2 separate regions of the Homo sapiens genome follow, and region 2 is linked to region 1. Evidence: fine-mapped expression QTL. Tissue or cell type: subcutaneous fat. Region 1 holds a variant in brackets; the other region holds the start of a gene. All regions are shown on one strand. Distances are between the middles of the regions.

The links. PIP is the estimated chance that this variant, and not a neighbour inherited with it, causes the effect.
Region 2: it holds the start of SNX8, and the variant in region 1 is fine-mapped to the expression of SNX8 in subcutaneous fat (FUSION, PIP 0.95).

Annotation. Positions count from the first base shown.
Region 1 is chr7:2,261,933-2,269,987 of GRCh38, reverse strand. It overlaps SNX8 (sorting nexin 8), which reads left to right. Exons shown (of 11, transcript NM_013321.4): 5 at 349-429; 6 at 5,530-5,690; 7 at 6,626-6,758. Among named protein-coding and RNA genes, the nearest start is that of MIR6836, 8.4 kb to the right of the region's middle. The variant G/A (reference allele first, on the strand shown) is at 2,915.
Region 2 is chr7:2,310,624-2,318,678 of GRCh38, reverse strand. SNX8 (sorting nexin 8) reads left to right here and starts at 4,238. Exons shown (of 11, transcript NM_013321.4): 1 at 4,238-4,351. The coding sequence starts at 4,258. RefSeq lists enhancers at 3,133-3,633, 3,634-4,134, 5,879-6,008, 6,049-6,128, 6,329-6,498 and 2 more and silencers at 3,953-4,222, 4,323-4,562.

The DNA.
Region 1 (8,055 bases):
CGGGTCTGTGGATGGAGGGGCCGTTTCTCTGCAGAGCCGCCCCTGGTCTGTGGATGGAGTGGCTGTTTCTCTGGAGAGCTGCCCCCCGTCTGCGGATGGAGTGGCTGTGCCTCTGGAGAGAGGCTGCAGGTTTGTGGTGCTCCTGCTGTGAAGCCAGGCTGTCCTGTTTGGTGAGAAAAACATCTAAGGGAGAGTCAAGAGATTGCAGAATACTAATGTCAAAGCCAACATATGGAAATGTGTTTCTCCTGAGGAAAGACGACCTCCCGCTCCACAGTGACCCATACCCCACAGCAGCTTTCTTGCTGCTAGTAGAAGAGGGTGAAGCTGTGTGTTTTCCTTTTGCAGGATGTGCAGAACAAGTTAAAGGAGTCAGCACAGTGCGTCGGGGACGAATTCCTGAACTGTAAGCTGGCTACCAGGGCCAAGGTATTTTTCTTTTTTTTTTCTTTTTTTTTTTTTTTAATTTATTTTTTTATTGATCATTCTTGGGTGTTTCTCGCAGAGGGGGATTTGGCAGGGTCATGGGACAATAGTGGAGGGAAGGTCAGCAGATAAACAAGTGAACAAAGGTCTCTGGTTTTCCTAGGCAGAGGACCCTGCGGCCTTCCGCAGTGTTTGTGTCCCTGATTACTTGAGATTAGGGAGTGGTGATGACTCTTAACGAGCATGCTGCCTTCAAGCATCTGTTTAACAAAGCACATCCTGCACCGCCCTTAATCCATTTAACCCTGAGTGGACACAGCACAGGGTTGGGGGTAAGGTCACAGATCAACAGGATCCCAAGGCAGAGGAATTTTTCTTAGTACAGAACAAAATGAAAAGTCTCCCATGTCTACTTCTTTCTACACAGACACGGCAACCATCCGATTTCTCAATCTTTTCCCCACCTTTCCCGCCTTTCTATTCCACAAAGCCGCCATTGTCATCCTGGCCCGTTCTCAATGAGCTGTTGGGCACACCTCCCAGACGGGGTGGTGGCCGGGCAGAGGGGCTCCTCACTTCCCAGTAGGGGTGGCCGGGCAGAGGCGCCCCTCACCTCCCGGACGGGGCGGCTGGCCAGGCAGGGGGGCTGACCCCCCCCCACCTCCCTCCCGGACGGGGCGGCTGGCCGGGCGGGGGGCTGACCCCCCCACCTCCCTCCCGGACGGGGCGGCTGGCCGGGCAGAGGGCCTCCTCACTTCCCAGTAGGGGCGGCCGGGCAGAGGCGCCCCTCACCTCCCGGACGGGGCGGCTGGCCGGGCTGGGGGGCTGACCCCCCCCACCTCCCTCCCGGACGGGGCGGCTGGCTGGGCAGAGGGGCTCCTCACTTCCCAGTAGGGGCGGCCGGGCAGAGGCGCCCCTCACCTCCCAGACGGGGCGGCTGGCTGGGCGGAGGGCTGACCCCCCCACCTCCCTCCCGGACAGGGCGGCTGGCCAGGCGGGGGGCTGACCCCCCCACCTCCCTCCCGGATGGCACGGCTGGCCGGGCGGGGGGGCTGACCCCCCACCTCCCTCCCGGATGGGGCGGCTGGCCGGGCGGGGGGCTGACCCCCCCCACCTCCCTCCCGGATGGGGTGGCTGCCGGGCGGAGACGCTCCTCACTTCCCAGATGGGGTGGCTGCCGGGCGGAGAGGCTCCTCACTTCTCAGACAGGGCAGCTGCCGGGCGGAGGGGCTCCTCACTTCTCAGACGGGGTGGTTGCCAGGCAGAGGGTCTCCTCACTTCTCAGACGGGGCGGCCGGGCAGAGACGCTCCTCACCTCCCAGACGGGGTCTCGCCGGGCAGAGGCGCTCCTCACATCCCAGATGGGGCGGCTGGCCGGGCGGAGGGCTGACGCCCCCCACCTCCCTCCCGGATGGGGCGGCTGGCCAGGCGGGGGGCTGACCCCCCCACCTCCCTCCCGGACGGGGCGGCTGGCCAGGTGGTGGGGCTGACCCCCCCATCTCCCTCCCGGACGGGGTGGCTGGCCGGGCAGAGACGCTCCTCACCTCCCAGACGGGGTCTCGGCCGGGCAGAGGCGCTCCTCACATCCCAGATGGGGCGGCGGGGCAGAGGCGCTCCCCACATCTCAGACTATGGGCGGCCGGGCAGAGACGCTCCTCACTTCCTAGATGTGATGGCGGCTGGGAAGAGGCGCTCCTCACTTCCTAGATGGGATGGCGGCCGGGCGGAGACGCTCCTCACTTTCCAGACTGGGCAGCCAGGCAGAGGGGCTCCTCACATCCCAGACGATGGGCGGCCAGGCAGAGACACTCCTCACTTCCCAGACGGGGTGGCGGCCGGGCAGAGGCTGCAGTCTCGGCACTTTGGGAGGCCAAGGCAGGCGGCTGGGAGGTGTAGGTTGTAGTGAGCCGAGATCACGTCACTGCACTCCAGCCTGGGCACCATTGAGCACTGAGTGAACGAGACTCCGTCTGCAATCCCGGCACCTCGGGAGGCCGAGGTTGGCGGATCACTCGCGGTTAGGGGCTGGAGACCGGCCCGGCCAACACAGCGAAACCCCGTCTCCACCAAAACCAGTCAGGCGTGGCGGCGCGTGCCTGCAATCGCAGGCATTCGGCAGACTGAGGCAGGAGAATCAGGCAGGGAGGTTGCAGTGAGCCGAGATGGCAGCAGTACAGTCCAGCTTCGGCTCCGCATGAGAGGGAGACTGTGGGGTGAGGGAGAGGGAGAGGGGGAGGGGGAGGGGGAGGGGGAGGGAGAGGGCCAAGGTATTTTTCTAACTTTGAAGAGTACATCCCTTTTTAACCAGAGAAACAAGTTTTAACCCTTCAAAGTGATTTTGCCTCCTCTGCGTGGCAGGGATTATGCTGACATCTGTCGCATGGTTTCCTCATTTAACCCTCGTTTCAGTTGCTCCGACACAGGGCTGGGAGGCCTGTTTTACGGATGGAGAAACAGGCTCAGGGAGGCTGTCATTTGCCAAGGCCCC[G/A]AGCCTCTAAGCAGCAGGGCCGGGTTGCGGCTGAGCTCTGCCCTCAGGCCCTCCAGGCACCTCGTGCCCTCTGCCCTTTTCTGTGACTCAGACAGACGGATGCTTGTGTCAGCACCTTTTCAGATTTCTGGGGATTCATTGTTACATTTGTTTATTATTAAATGTTTAAAGTTTGGTCTTTTTCCAAAAAAGACTAAGGTAGCTACTTGGTAGTTTTTTTGTTTTTGGTTTTTTCTTTTTAAACCTCTTCTTCAGGCTGGCGCGGTGGCTCCTTCCTGTAATCCCAGCACTTTGGGAGGCTGAGGCTGTCGGATCACTTGAGGTCAGGAGTTTGAGACCAGCCTGGCCAACATAGCAAAACCCCATCTCTAATAAAAATACAAAACAAAAAAGGAAAACAAAAAAAAGCAAAACAAACCCCAAAAAACCGGCCGGGCGTGGTGGCTTACGCCTGTAATCCTAGCACTTTGGGAGGCCGAGGCGGGTGGATCACGAGGTCAGGAGTTCAAGACTAGCCTGACTAACATGGTGAAACCCCGCCTCTACTAAAAATACAAAAATTAGCTGGGTGCGGTGGCGTGCACCTGTAATTCCAGCTACTCAGGAGGCTGAGGCAGGAGAATTGCTTGAACCTAGGAGGAAGAGGTTGGAGTGAGCCAAGATTGCGCCACTGCACTCCAGCCTGGACGACAGAGACACCATCAAAAAAAAGAAAAAAAAAATTAGCCAGGCTTGGTGGCAGGCACCTGTAATCCCAGCTATTTGGGAGGCTGAGGCAAGAGGACTGCTTGAACCCAGGAGGCAGAGGCTGCAGTGAGCCCAGGTCGTGCCATTGCACTCCAGCCTGGGTAACAGAGTGAGACTTTGTGTCAAAGACGACAACAACAACAACAAAAAAACCAGAAAAAAACCTGCTTCTTCATACAAAAATTAAAAATCTATTTTATTTTATTTTTTGAGACAAGGTCTTGCTCTGTCCTCTAGGCTATAGTGCAGTGGTGCAATCGTAGGTCATTGCAGCCTCGACCTCCTGAGTTCAAGCAATTCTCCCACTTCAGCCTCCCAGAATAGCTGGGACCACAGGCATGCACCACAGTACTTGGCTGATTTGTTTGTTTGTTTTTGGTATAGATGAAGTCTCACTATGTTGCCCAGGCTGGTCTTGAACTCTTGGCCTCAAGCAATCCTCCTGGCATGGCCCCCCAAAGTACTGGGATTAAAGGCATGAGCCACCATGCCTGGCCAAATCTTTTACCTTCATTTTACTCTCTGAGCTTTCTGTTTTCTGAACTCTGATAGTTAGTATCAAATCTTATAAAAAGTCTTTGGGAATAAACGCGGCATAGAAGAGGCCTTCCCCCCATGTGGAGAGTCTTTCAGGAATTTATGTTCATTGTGTTTAACTTGAAGATTGTTTGTTTTTATTTTTGTTGTTTTCTGGGGACAGGGTCCCCAGGCTGGAGTGCAGTGTTGTGATCATGGCTCCTTGCAGCATGGAACTCCTGGGCTCAAGTGATCCTCCTGCCTCAGCCCTCTGTAAGCACCTGGGACCACAGGCGCTCCACCACGCCTGGCTAATTTTTTGATTTTTTGGGAGAGATGGGGTTTCACTATGTTGCCCAGGCTGTTCTTAAACTCCCAGGCTCTAGCAATCCTCTTGCCTCAGTCTCCCAGAGCGCTGGGGTACAGGTGTGAGTCACTGTATCCAGCTAAAGATTAGTATTGTTAGTTTTTGAGACGGAGTCTCGCTCTGTTGCCCAGGCTGGGGTGCAGTGGTGTGATCGCAGCTCACTGCAAGCTCCGCCTCCGGGGTTCATGCCATTCTCCTGCCTCAGCCTCCCAAGTAGCTGGGACTAGGTGCCCACCACCAGGCTCGGCTAATTTTTTGTATTTTTAGTAGAGATGGGGTTTCACCATAGTCTCGATCTCCTTACCTCGTGATTCGCCCTACTCGGCCTCCCAAAGTGCTGGGATTACAGGCGTGAGCCACTGCGCCCGGCAAGATTATTATTCGAGTGTTTTGTTGGTTTGTTTGTTTTGAGACAGAGTCTCGTTCTGTCGCCCAAACTGGAGTGTGGTTGCGCGATCTCAGCTCACTGCAACCTCTGCCTCCCGGATTCAAGCAATTCTCCTGTCTCAGCCTCTGGAGTAGCTGGGATTACAGGTGCATGCCGCCATGCCCAGCTAATTTTTGTATTTTTAGTGGAGATGGGGTTTCACCATATTGGTCAGGCTGGTCTTGAACTCCTGACCTGAGGTGATCCACCTGCCTCAGCCTCCAAAGTGCTGGGATTACAGGTGTGAGTGACTGCCCCTGGCCTTATTTGAGTGTTTTTGGATAGGTCCTCCAGTGTGATGAGATTTCAGTGGACTCTGTGGTCCTCATCCCATGGGATCATTTGTCTTTGTGTTTGTGGCATGCAGGTGATGATGGTTTTTGTTTCTTTTTTGGACACACAGAGTGATCCCTGCAGGCCTGGAGGAGTGGGGCTCCCGGGGTGGCTCATGGACCTGCTGTGTCTCCCGTGGCTCAGCTTCTGGGGGACCGGCTGCTGCCGTCTGACAGGTGCTCCCCAGCGACTAACACAGTGTCTCTCCCCCCATCATGATGTCAGGACTTCCTCCCAGCTGACATCCAGGCTCAGTTTGCCATCAGCCGGGAGCTGATCCGGAACATCTACAATAGCTTTCACAAGCTTCGCGACAGGGCCGAGCGGATCGCATCGCGGGCCATCGACAATGCGGCAGATCTTCTCATATTCGGGAAGGAGCTAAGGTAGGTGACCTTTCAGCTTCTGCAGGGGCACGCGCGGTGGGACGGGAATCCATGCTGGTGAAGGGCTTGGGCGGAAAGTGCGTTTACCGTAATAACCAGCATCCTGACCTGTTTCATCTCAGAAGGGGCAGAAAGTGGCTCAGGCACATGGGGGGTCATATTTGGAAGAAACACGGGAGAATTTCGGCCCTGAAACACGGATTTCTGAGCACGAGTAAATGCTCACCAGTTTCTAGTCTGGTAGTTTTTTCACTGTCAGGATGAGACTTTAAAAAAAGATCCCAGGCCAGGCGTGGTGGCTCACACCTGTAATCCCAGCACTTTGGGAGGCCGAGGTGGGTGGATCACGAGGTCAGGAGTTCAAGATCAGCCTGGCCAAGATGGTGAAACCCGTCTCTACTAAAAATACAAAAAAAAGTTCTCTGGGCGTGGTGGCGGGTGCCTGTCATCTCAGCTACTCGGGAGGCTGAGGCAGAGAATTGCTTGAACCTAGGAGGCGGAGGTTGCAGTGAGCCGAGATCGCGCCACTGCACTCCAGCCTGGGTGATACAGCGAGACTCCGTCTCAAAAAAAAAAAAGATCCCTTTGACTTGGGGAAGAACAGACCATGGGCTGGCAGCGCTTCCTTTGCCTGAGGGGAGGGGAGACCCCACCCGGGACTCTGCTTGCCCCAGCAGTGCCCGTCACCTGTGCACACATGTCACCTGGGGGCTGGTTGGGAAGAAGAGACGCAGCAGGTCCTGAGGTGCAGCCCCAGGGCCACCCTTTCTCCCGGGCTCCCAGGGTCCCCACAGGCCACTCTTTGAGCAGCAGGGTCCTAGGACGGGGTCACGCAGGTTGCCGTGGAGGACATCTGTCGGGGGGGATGCCAGACTCGACTGCCAGGTGAGCTCCAGGCCTTGAGTGTCTCCTCTCCTGTGTGCTTGCTCCCTCAGTGCAATAGGGTCTGACACGACCCCGCTGCCCTCCTGGGCCGCTCTGAATAGCAGCACGTGGGGGTCCCTGAAGCAGGCTCTGAAAGGCCTGTCTGTGGAATTCGCGCTGCTCGCCGACAAGGCTGCACAACAGGTGAGTGGATCGGTTCTCCCAGGCGCCTGTTCCAGAGAACACGCTATGCCTTTGCATGGGGAGTGCCTCCTGCTTAGATGGGCGTCACAGTTCGTTTTTGTTTTGTTGTTTTGAGAAGGAGTCTCCCTCTGTTGCCAGGCTGGAGCGCAAAGGCGCAATCTCGGCTCGCTGCAACCTCTGCCTCCTGGGTTCAAGTGATTCTCCTGCCTTAGCCTCCTGAGTAGCTGGGATTACAGGTGTCCACCACCATGCCTGGCTAATTTTTTGTATTTTTAGTAGAGATGAGGTTTCACCATGTTCGTCAGGCTGGTCTTGAACTCCTGACCTTAGGTGACCTGCCCGCCTCGGCCTCCCAAAGTGCTGGGATTACAGGCGTGAGCCACTGTGCCCGGCCGGCTTCCCAGTTCTGAGCCGAGTGAATGACAGCTGTGCCCTGGGTGGGAGCTGCCCATCCACATCTGTTCCTGGTGGCTCCCTGGGAGCGTTTACGCTTTCGAGAGGGGGTTGCCAGCGACAAAACAGATTAGGCTGTAGTCTTGAGTGTTGATTTTGCTGAGGTTGGAAGACAGACTCTGTCTTTGAAAAGATGATCTTGGGCTTCCAGGCATACTCCTGGGTGGACCAGATAGTTCCCACTTTGCTGTCTGAGTCCACTAGGATTTGGCACTGGAGACTTAACTCATCAGAATAATAAAGCCCCAGCACCTGAGCGGCTCCCACCTCCCGCTCCACACACAACCTCAGGCAGTGCTCCTGCTGCATGGGCAGAAGCTGATTTCAGAAATTCGCCAAGATCTTGGAGTCATTTGGGATCAGTTTGAAGATACGGTGTTTACTATCACACTGGAAAGCTCATCTGGGTGCTTTTATGTTAAGAAAAAGTGTTACATGGCTGGGCACAGCGGCTCACACCTATCATCCCAGCGCTTTGGGAGGCTGAGGCAGGAGGACTGCTTGAGCCCAGGAGTTCAGGACCACCCTGGGCAACAGAGCAAGATCTCATCTCTATCAAAAATAAAAAAAAATTAGCCAGGGGTGGTGGTGCGTGTCTGTAGTCCCAGCTACTCACGAGGCTGAGGTGGGAGGATCACCTGAACCCAAGAGGTAGAGGCTTCAGTGAGCCATGATGGTGCCACTGCACACCAGCCTGGGCGACAGAGCGAGACCCTGTCTCAAAAACAAAAAAAAGTGGACATAGTTGTGAATGTGGGAGCTTGCTGCCTAGTTCCTATTTCTTGGGAAAGTGGCCTCCAGGCTACTCATATTAGTTTGAAGAGAGTGATCAGAGTGTGCCCGT
Region 2 (8,055 bases), 49 kb before region 1:
TTTTCGCCCAAGCTGGAGTACAATGGCGCAATCTCAGGTCACTGCAACATCTGCCTCCCAGGTTCAAGCAATCTCCTGCCTCAGCCTCCCGAGTAGCTGGGATTACAGGCGCCTGCCACCATGCCCAGCTAATTTTTTTTTTCTTTTTTTTTTTTGAGACAGAGTTTCGCTCTTTTGCCGAGGCTGGAGTGCAGTGGCATGATCTTGGCTCACTGCAAGCTCTGCCTCCCGGGTTCACACCATTCTCCTGCCTCAGCCTCCCGAGTAGCTGGGATTACAGGCGCCCGGTAGAGACTGTAGTGGTTTCCTCATGTTGGCCAGGCTGGTCTCGAACTCCTGACCTCAGGTGATCTGCCTGCCTCAGCCTCCCAAAGTGCTGGGATTACAGGTGTGAGCAACTGTGCCTGGCTACAAATTTAATAAGTAAATATTTTATAATCTAGTTTGAGACCAAAAATACGTAGGAAACAGCTGGGCATGGTGGCCTGTGCCTTAGTCCCAGCTACTTGGGAGGCTGAGGTGGGAGGACTGATTGAGGCCAGGAGTTTGAGGCTATAGTGAGCTATGATTGGGCAGCTACAGTCCAGCCTGGGCAACACAGCAAGACCCTGCCTCTAATAAAAATATGATCAGGAAGTGGGCAGAGTATATATGTGTGCGTGGCACAGGGAAAGTGCTGAGTACATTATTTGGCAGCAACAGCAGCTGGAAGGAAGTGAGGGTGGAGGAAGGAAGCAGCTATCAGATATGGGGGGAGGTCACAGGATCCTGCCATGTCCCACTGTGCCTAGGGAAAGTTGTTATATGTCCATCAGCAGAAGGACATCTCGATCTCGGCTCACTGCAACCTTGGCCTCCCAGGTTATGGTGGAGAGAGCATCAATGGTGTGCCTGCTTGCATGGAGGTCCTGGTGTGCGGGGACCCTATGGCGTCCTAGGTGCAGTCATCTGTTACCGAGGCAGGGTCCAGCAGCTATAGCCAGAGGAAGTAACTACCTTGTGAGAAGGGGACGCTTCCTAGGAACTGACATGGTTCTGGGCTCTTGGTTCTGTAATCAACTCCCCGGACATTGTGTGACATCAGCGTTAGAAGGTCCAGGATGGCCGGGCACGGTGGCTCACACCTGTAATCCCAGCACTTTGGAAGGCCAAGGTGGGCGGATCACTTGAGGTCAGGAGTTCGAGACCAGCCTGGCCAACATGGTGAAAACCCATCTCTACAAAAATACAAAAATTAGCTGGGTGTGGTGGCACACGCCTGTAATACCAGCTACACGGGAGGCTGAGACAGGAGAATCGCTTGACCTGGGAGGCGGAGGTTGCAGTGAGCCAAGATCATGCCACTGCCCTCCGCTCCAGGCAACAGAGTGAGACTCTGTCTCAAAAAAAAAAAAAAAAAAAAAAAAAAAAAAAAAAAAAAAAAAAAAGAAGGTCCAGGATCCTTCCTTTGGAAACAAGCCCTTCCTGATGCAGGCCTACCAATCTCCATGCCAAACCCCACACTTTTAGCCTGGAATGACCACAGCATCTGCAGCTGATGTCTCAGAGCCTTCGTGCCCTCCTCCTACTTAACTCCTTATTCCTCCAGCCCTAACTCTGGTACCACCCATCCAGGGATCCCTTCACCCATGTAGGGAAGGGATCGCCCTTCACCCTTCACCCTCTTCTGCGGTGTGTTGCACAGCCTTGCTCCCGTTTTGGAACAGTTAGCACACTTGCTCCACTCTGGCCATCTGTGCCTCCTCCAGATCAAGGAATGCACAGGAAACATCTTTGTATTCTCAGCACCCAGCACAGGGCTTCCTGACCTCCTGGTGGCAGCCAGCAAACCTGAGTGGGCCAGTGGGTGGGTGGATAGATGCAGGATGCAGTGAGTGAGTGAGTGAGTGGGTGGGTGGATGAATGCAGGATGCAGTGAGTGAGTGGGTGGGTGAATGAATGAATGCAGGATGCAGTGAGTGAGTGAGTGGTTGCATGAATGAATGCATGATGCAGTGACTCAGTGAGTGGGTGAATGAATGAATGCAGGATGCAGTGAGTGAGTGGTTGTGTGAATGAATGCAGGATGCAGTGCGTGAGTGAGTGGGTGAATGAATGAATGAATGCAGGATGCAGTGAGTGAGTGGTTGTGTGAATGAATGCAGGATGCAGTGCGTGAGTGAGTGAGTGGGTGAATGAATGAATGCAGGATGCAGTGAGTGAGTGAGTGGGTGAATGAATGCAGGATGCAGTGAGTAAGTGGGTGAATGAATGCAGGATGCAGTGAGTGAGTGGTTGCGTGAATGAATGCAGGATGCAGTGCATGAGTGAGTGAGTGAGTGAATGAATGAATGCAGGATGCAGTGAGTGGGTGGGTGAATGAATGCAGGATGCAGTGAGTGAGTGAGTGAGTGGTTGTGTGAATGAATTCAGGATGCAGAGTGAGTGAGTGGGTGAATGAATGAATGCAGGATGCAGTGAGTGAGTGGGTGGGTGAGTGAATGCAGGATGCAGTGAGTGAGTGGGTGAATGAATGCAGGGTGCAGTGAGTGAGTGGTTGCGTGAATGAAAGCAGGATGCAGTGAGTGAGTGAGTGGGTGAATGAATGCAGGATGAAGTGCATGAGTGAGTGGGTGGGTAGATGAATGAATGCAGGATGCAGTGAGTGGGTGAGTGAGTGGGTGAATGAATGCAGGATGCAGTGAGTGTGGGTGAATGAATGTATGAAGAAGCAGTGAGTGAGTGAGTGGATGAATGAATGCAGGATGCAGTGAGTGAGTGAGTGGGTGGATGAATGAATGCAGGATGCAGTTAGTGAGTGAGTGAATGAATGCAGGATGCAGTTAGTGAGTGAGTGAATGAATGCAGGATGCAGTAAGTGAGTGAGTGGGTGAATGAATGAATGCAGGATGCAGTGAGTGAATGAATGAATGTAGGATGCAGTAAGTGAGTGAGTGGGTGAATGAATGAATGCAGGATGCAGTGAGTGAGTGACTGAATGAATGCAGAATGCAGTGAGTGGGTTGGTGAATGAATGAATGCAGGATGCAGTGCGTGAGTGGGTGAATGAATGTACGAAGAAGCAGTAAGTGAGTGAGTGAGTGAATGGATGAATGAATGCAGGATGCAGTGCATGAGTGAGTGGGTGGATGAATGAATGCAGGATGCAGTGAGTGAGTGGGTGAATGAACGTATGAAGAAGCAGTAAGTGAGTGAGTGAGTGAATGGATGAATGAATGCAGGATGCAGTGCATGAGTGAGTGGGTGGATGAATGAATGCAGGATGCAGTGAGTGAGTGGGTGAGTGGGTGAATGAATGCAGGATGCAATAAGTGAGTGAATGAGTGAATGCAGGATGCAGAGAGTGAGTGGGTGAGTGGGTGAATGAATGAATGCAGGATGCAGTGAGTGAGTGGGTGAGTGGGTGAATGAATGCAGGATGCAGTGCGTGAGTGGGTGAATGAATGAATGCAGGATGCAGTGAGTGAGTGGGTGAATGAATGAATGCAGGATGCAGTGAGTGAGTGGCTGGATGAATGAATGCAGGATGCAGTGAGTGAGTGGCTGGATGAATGCAGGATGCGGTGAGTGTGTGAGTGGATGAATGAATGTAGGATGCAGTGAGTGAGTGGGTGAATGAATGAATGCAGGATGCAGTGAGTGAGTGGGTGAATGAATGAATGCAGGATGCAGTGAGTGAGTGGGTGAATGATTGCAGGATGCAGTGAGTGAGTGAGTGGCTGGATGAATGCAGGATGCGGTGAGTGAGTGTGTGAGTGGATGAATGAATGTAGGATGCAGTGAGTGAGTGGGTGAATGAATGAATGCAGGATGCAGTGCGTGGGTGAGCGAATGAGTGGGTGAGTGGATGAATGAGGAAGTGCGAGTCAGAAAACCCCAGTGTAACCGGTGAATGAGCGAACAAGGGCGTGACTGGGCGAGGAGAGATGGGAGTGAATGAGGGTGCGGTGGGTGCAGGCTTGCGCCTGAGGTAGTGCACCTGCGAGTCCGGAGGTCCAACCTGAGGGGAGGTAACCTGCGCCACCAGCAGGCTCCGTGTCCACGTGGACGGGGAGGGGCATGTGGGCGTGGCTAGGCGGGTTGTAGGCGTGGCGAGGCCGGGCGAGGAGCGCGGCGGGCCCGCAGGGGCGGACTGTGGGCGTGGCGCGCGGGGGAGGGGGCGTGACCAGGCGGGGTGTGGGCGGGGCGAGGGCGCGGCGCGGCAGGGCTGCGCGGCCGGGTGGCGCGGGAGGAAGTCACGTGGGAGCGCGGGCTCACATGACTGGCCGCGCGATGGACCCGCTGCCCGCGGCTGCAGTCGGGGCGGCAGCTGAGGCGGAGGCTGACGAGGAGGCGGATCCCCCGGCGTCAGGTAGGGCGTGGGGCGGCGGTAGCCCCCACCTGCCCAGGGCGCGCGGCCCGACCACCCCCGGCGGACGGGGCTCAGCCGCCGCGCTTGGTCCCCGACTCGTTTCCTGCCCCCGCGCCCCGCGTTCGGCCCCACGCCCCAGTCCCTCGGAGGTCCCCCTGCCCTCCTGCGCGCCTGTCCTTTGGGGGTCCCCGTGCTCTCTCGCGCCTCCGTCCCTCGGGGTCCCCTGCCCTCCTGCGCCGGGAGAGCCCTGTCCAGGTTACAGCTGGCCGCGTTCCGAGGCGCTTTCCCGGGGCTCTCAGAGGCGTCCTCGGGGACAGTTTCCTCCTCGCCCCGTTCCTGGTGCCCTGCTCTTCTGCCCTGCCTGGTCACGCTGAGCGATGGCACTGGGGGCCACTTCCCCGGACTTGGGCGCCTTTCCTAGCCACATCCTCTCTCCCAAGCTCCTGTCGGTTGTGTGGTCTTGGGCCAGTAATTTCACCTCTCGGGACCTCTGTTTTCTCATCTGTGAACCGAATCTATAGATGTGTAGCTGCTTTTCTCTCTCTTTCAAGTGATCCTCCGCCTTAGCCTCCCAAAGTGCTGGGACTACGGGCGCGTGCAGTTACGCCCGGTAATTTTTTTTATTTTTGTAGAGATGGGATCTTGCTATGTTGTCCAGGCTGGTCTGGAGCTTCTGGCCTCAAGCGGTCCTCCTGCCTTGGCCTCCCAAAGTGCTGGGAGTACGGGCATGAGCCATCGTGCCTGGCCTGTATTTCTGTCTTTTTCTTTTTTCTTTTTCTTTTCTTTTCTTTTTTTTTTTTTTTTGAGACAGATTCTCACTGTCACTCAGGCTGGAGTGCAATGGTGCGATCTCGGCTCATTGCAACCTCCGCCTCCCGGGTTCAAGCGATTCTCCTGCCTCAGCCTCCTGAGTAGCTGGGATTACAGGCATCCACCATGACACTCGGCTAAATTTTGTATTTTTAGTAGAGACGGAGTTTCACCATGTTGGCCAGGCTGGTCTCGAACTCCTGACCTCAGGTGATCCAACCACCTCAGCTTCCCAGAGTGCTGGGATTACAGGCGTGAGCCACCGCGCCTGGCCTCTTGTATTTCTCTTTAAGGGATTTGGGTTAATGAGGCTAAACATGGCTGGGCACGGTGGCTCACGCTTGTAATCTCAGCACTTTGGGAGGCCGAGGCGGGCGGATCACGAGGTCAGGAGATCAAGACCATCCTGGCTAACACGGTGAAACCCTGTCTCTACTAAAAATACAAAAAAAATTAGCCAGGCGCGGTGGCGGGCGCCTGTAGTCCCAGCTACTCGGGAGGCTGAGGCAGGAGAATGGCGTGAACCCGGGAGGCAGAGCTTGTAGTGAGCCGAGATAGCGCCACTGCACTCCAGCCTGGGCGACAGAGCGAGACTCCGCCTCAAAAAAAACAAAACAAAACAAAACAAACGAGGCTAAACATTAGAAGGAATACAGGAGGGTGCCCCTTATTTCTGGATGTTCCTTCCTGTGGTCCTAGCTGCCAGAGAAGAGATGTAGGTGGGTGTTGGTGTGAGTTACGGTTTCTTCTTGGTGGGGGGGGACAAGATTGGGGAATCCCCTTGTGGGGAGGTCTGGCAAGGTGTCGCTGAGGAGGTGATGACTGAAGTGAGCTCTGGAGGGTTGGTAGACAGTTTCTTCGTCGGCGAGAAACGGCAGCGGGGAGCAGGGGAGGGATTGTTGCATTTGGTGGGCATCCTCGATGTGAAGACTGTGTCTAGAAAGAAGGGCCTTTCAGAATGGGTCTTCAGTTATTTTTTCCTTTCCCTTGTATCAGTGTAAGGGGAGGCACGTGATAGTTCTCGCTGATTAGAACATTGTGTCCATGAAGTCACATGTTGGAGGCCAGCGTGAGTCTCAGGCGGGACCCTTTCCGAGGGGTCACTTGGGAACAGGTAGGCTGTGATTGGATCGGAATGCTGCTGCTATCTCAGCTTGTAAAGCAATTTGGCATTGCTGGAGGGGTCCTCTGCAGGTGTAGGGGACTGTGTTTCCTTCAGGCTTCACAGAAGTAGACTCCAGAGGCTACCATAATGGTGTAATTTAGAGATAGTCTGAGCGCTGTACACCTGAGGGAGCTGTGTCTCTGGGAGACCGCCCTCCCTTTGGTGTGGCCTGGAATTCCTGTAGGTAGTTGGCTTTTTCTGGGGGCAGTGGTGATTTCATCAGGAGTGCTGATGGGATCCACAGATGGGGGTTGCTGGGACAAGGCAGTGCTTCACAGTGCCCTTTCCTGTAACCAGGCAAGTCTGAAAGTGGGGCTCACAGACTCTTGGGACGTAGACTGTCCTTCTGTTTGAAACTTGGTCGTCATCCTGGCAGGTGGGTGAAGTGGTATAGCAGGTCTTTTTTTTTTTTTCTTGAGACGGAGTCTCGCTCTGTCGCCCAGGCTGGAGTGCAGTGGTGTGATCTCGGCTCACTGCAAGCTCTGCCTCCCGGGTTCATGCCATTCTCCTGCCTCAGCCTCCCGAGTAGCTGGGACTACAGGCGCCCGCCACCACGCCCGGCTAATTTTTTGTATTTTTAGTAGAGACGGGGTTTCACCATGTTAGCCAGGATGGTCTCGATCTCCTGACCTCGTGATCTAGCCGCCTCGGCCTCCCAAAGTGCTGGGATTACAGGCGTGAGCCACCGCGCCCGGCCTCGCAGGTCTTTTTACATTGAGAAAACTAAAATCCAGAGGTAAGTAATTTGCCCAAAGTGGGCAATGTCAAGGGAATGTGTGTTGATGGGGACCCTGATTGGGTGGGCTGGAGTGAGAAAACCTCAGCCTTGAGACCAAGCACTGTGGCTCACGTCTGAAATCACAGCACTTGGGGAGGCTGAGGAGGGAGGATCGCCCGAGCCCAGGCGCTAGAGACCAGCCTGGACAACGTAGCGAAATCCTGTCTCAAATTTTTAAAAAAGAAAACAAAAACAAAAACAGCAAAGAAAAAAGTTAAGTCTCTGAATATTGTCCGGAGACTATGTGTGTGACTTACACGTTCACTAAGGTTGGTTTGAAGGAGTGGTTGTGCCTTACGGGTATACAGTGAATTTCCTCTTCTCTAGAGTTTTGGCCACACAGCCAGAGCCCACTGGTGGTATTCATGTGGGAACTGTGAAATCTCCTGCATCTTCGGTGTTGCCAGAAAAAAATGTGCTTGTTGTACTTTTCCACATTAAGAGTCTCATTCTATTTGAATTCTTTGAAGCTTAAGCTGTGAATGCTCTCTAGGGCAACCCTCTTTATAAAAACTTAATTTTCAGTTATGCCATACATGGACAAATGTATTTTCTTTAAAAAAGAATAGAACATTGTAGATTAAGTGAAAGTCCCATCCTAATTGCCATCATCTCCTGTCTGTACCTGAGAGGTGACCATTGTTCTCAGTTTGGGATGGACCGTTTTAGTTCTGTTTTCACATTTTATTCATATATGTACTCAGGAAACATATACTTCCTTATATAAGTGTGCTCATGTTTCCCTAGCGTAGTATATTCTCTAGCTTTCTTTTGTTCCTTTTATTTTTATTTATTTATTTTTTTGAGACGTAGTTTCACTCTTTTGCCCAGGCTGGAGTGCAGTGGTGCGATCTTGGCTCACTGCAAGCTCCACCTCCTGGGTTGACGCCATTCTTCTTTCTGCCTCAGCCTCCTGAGTAGCTGGGACTACAGGTGCCTGCCACCACACCT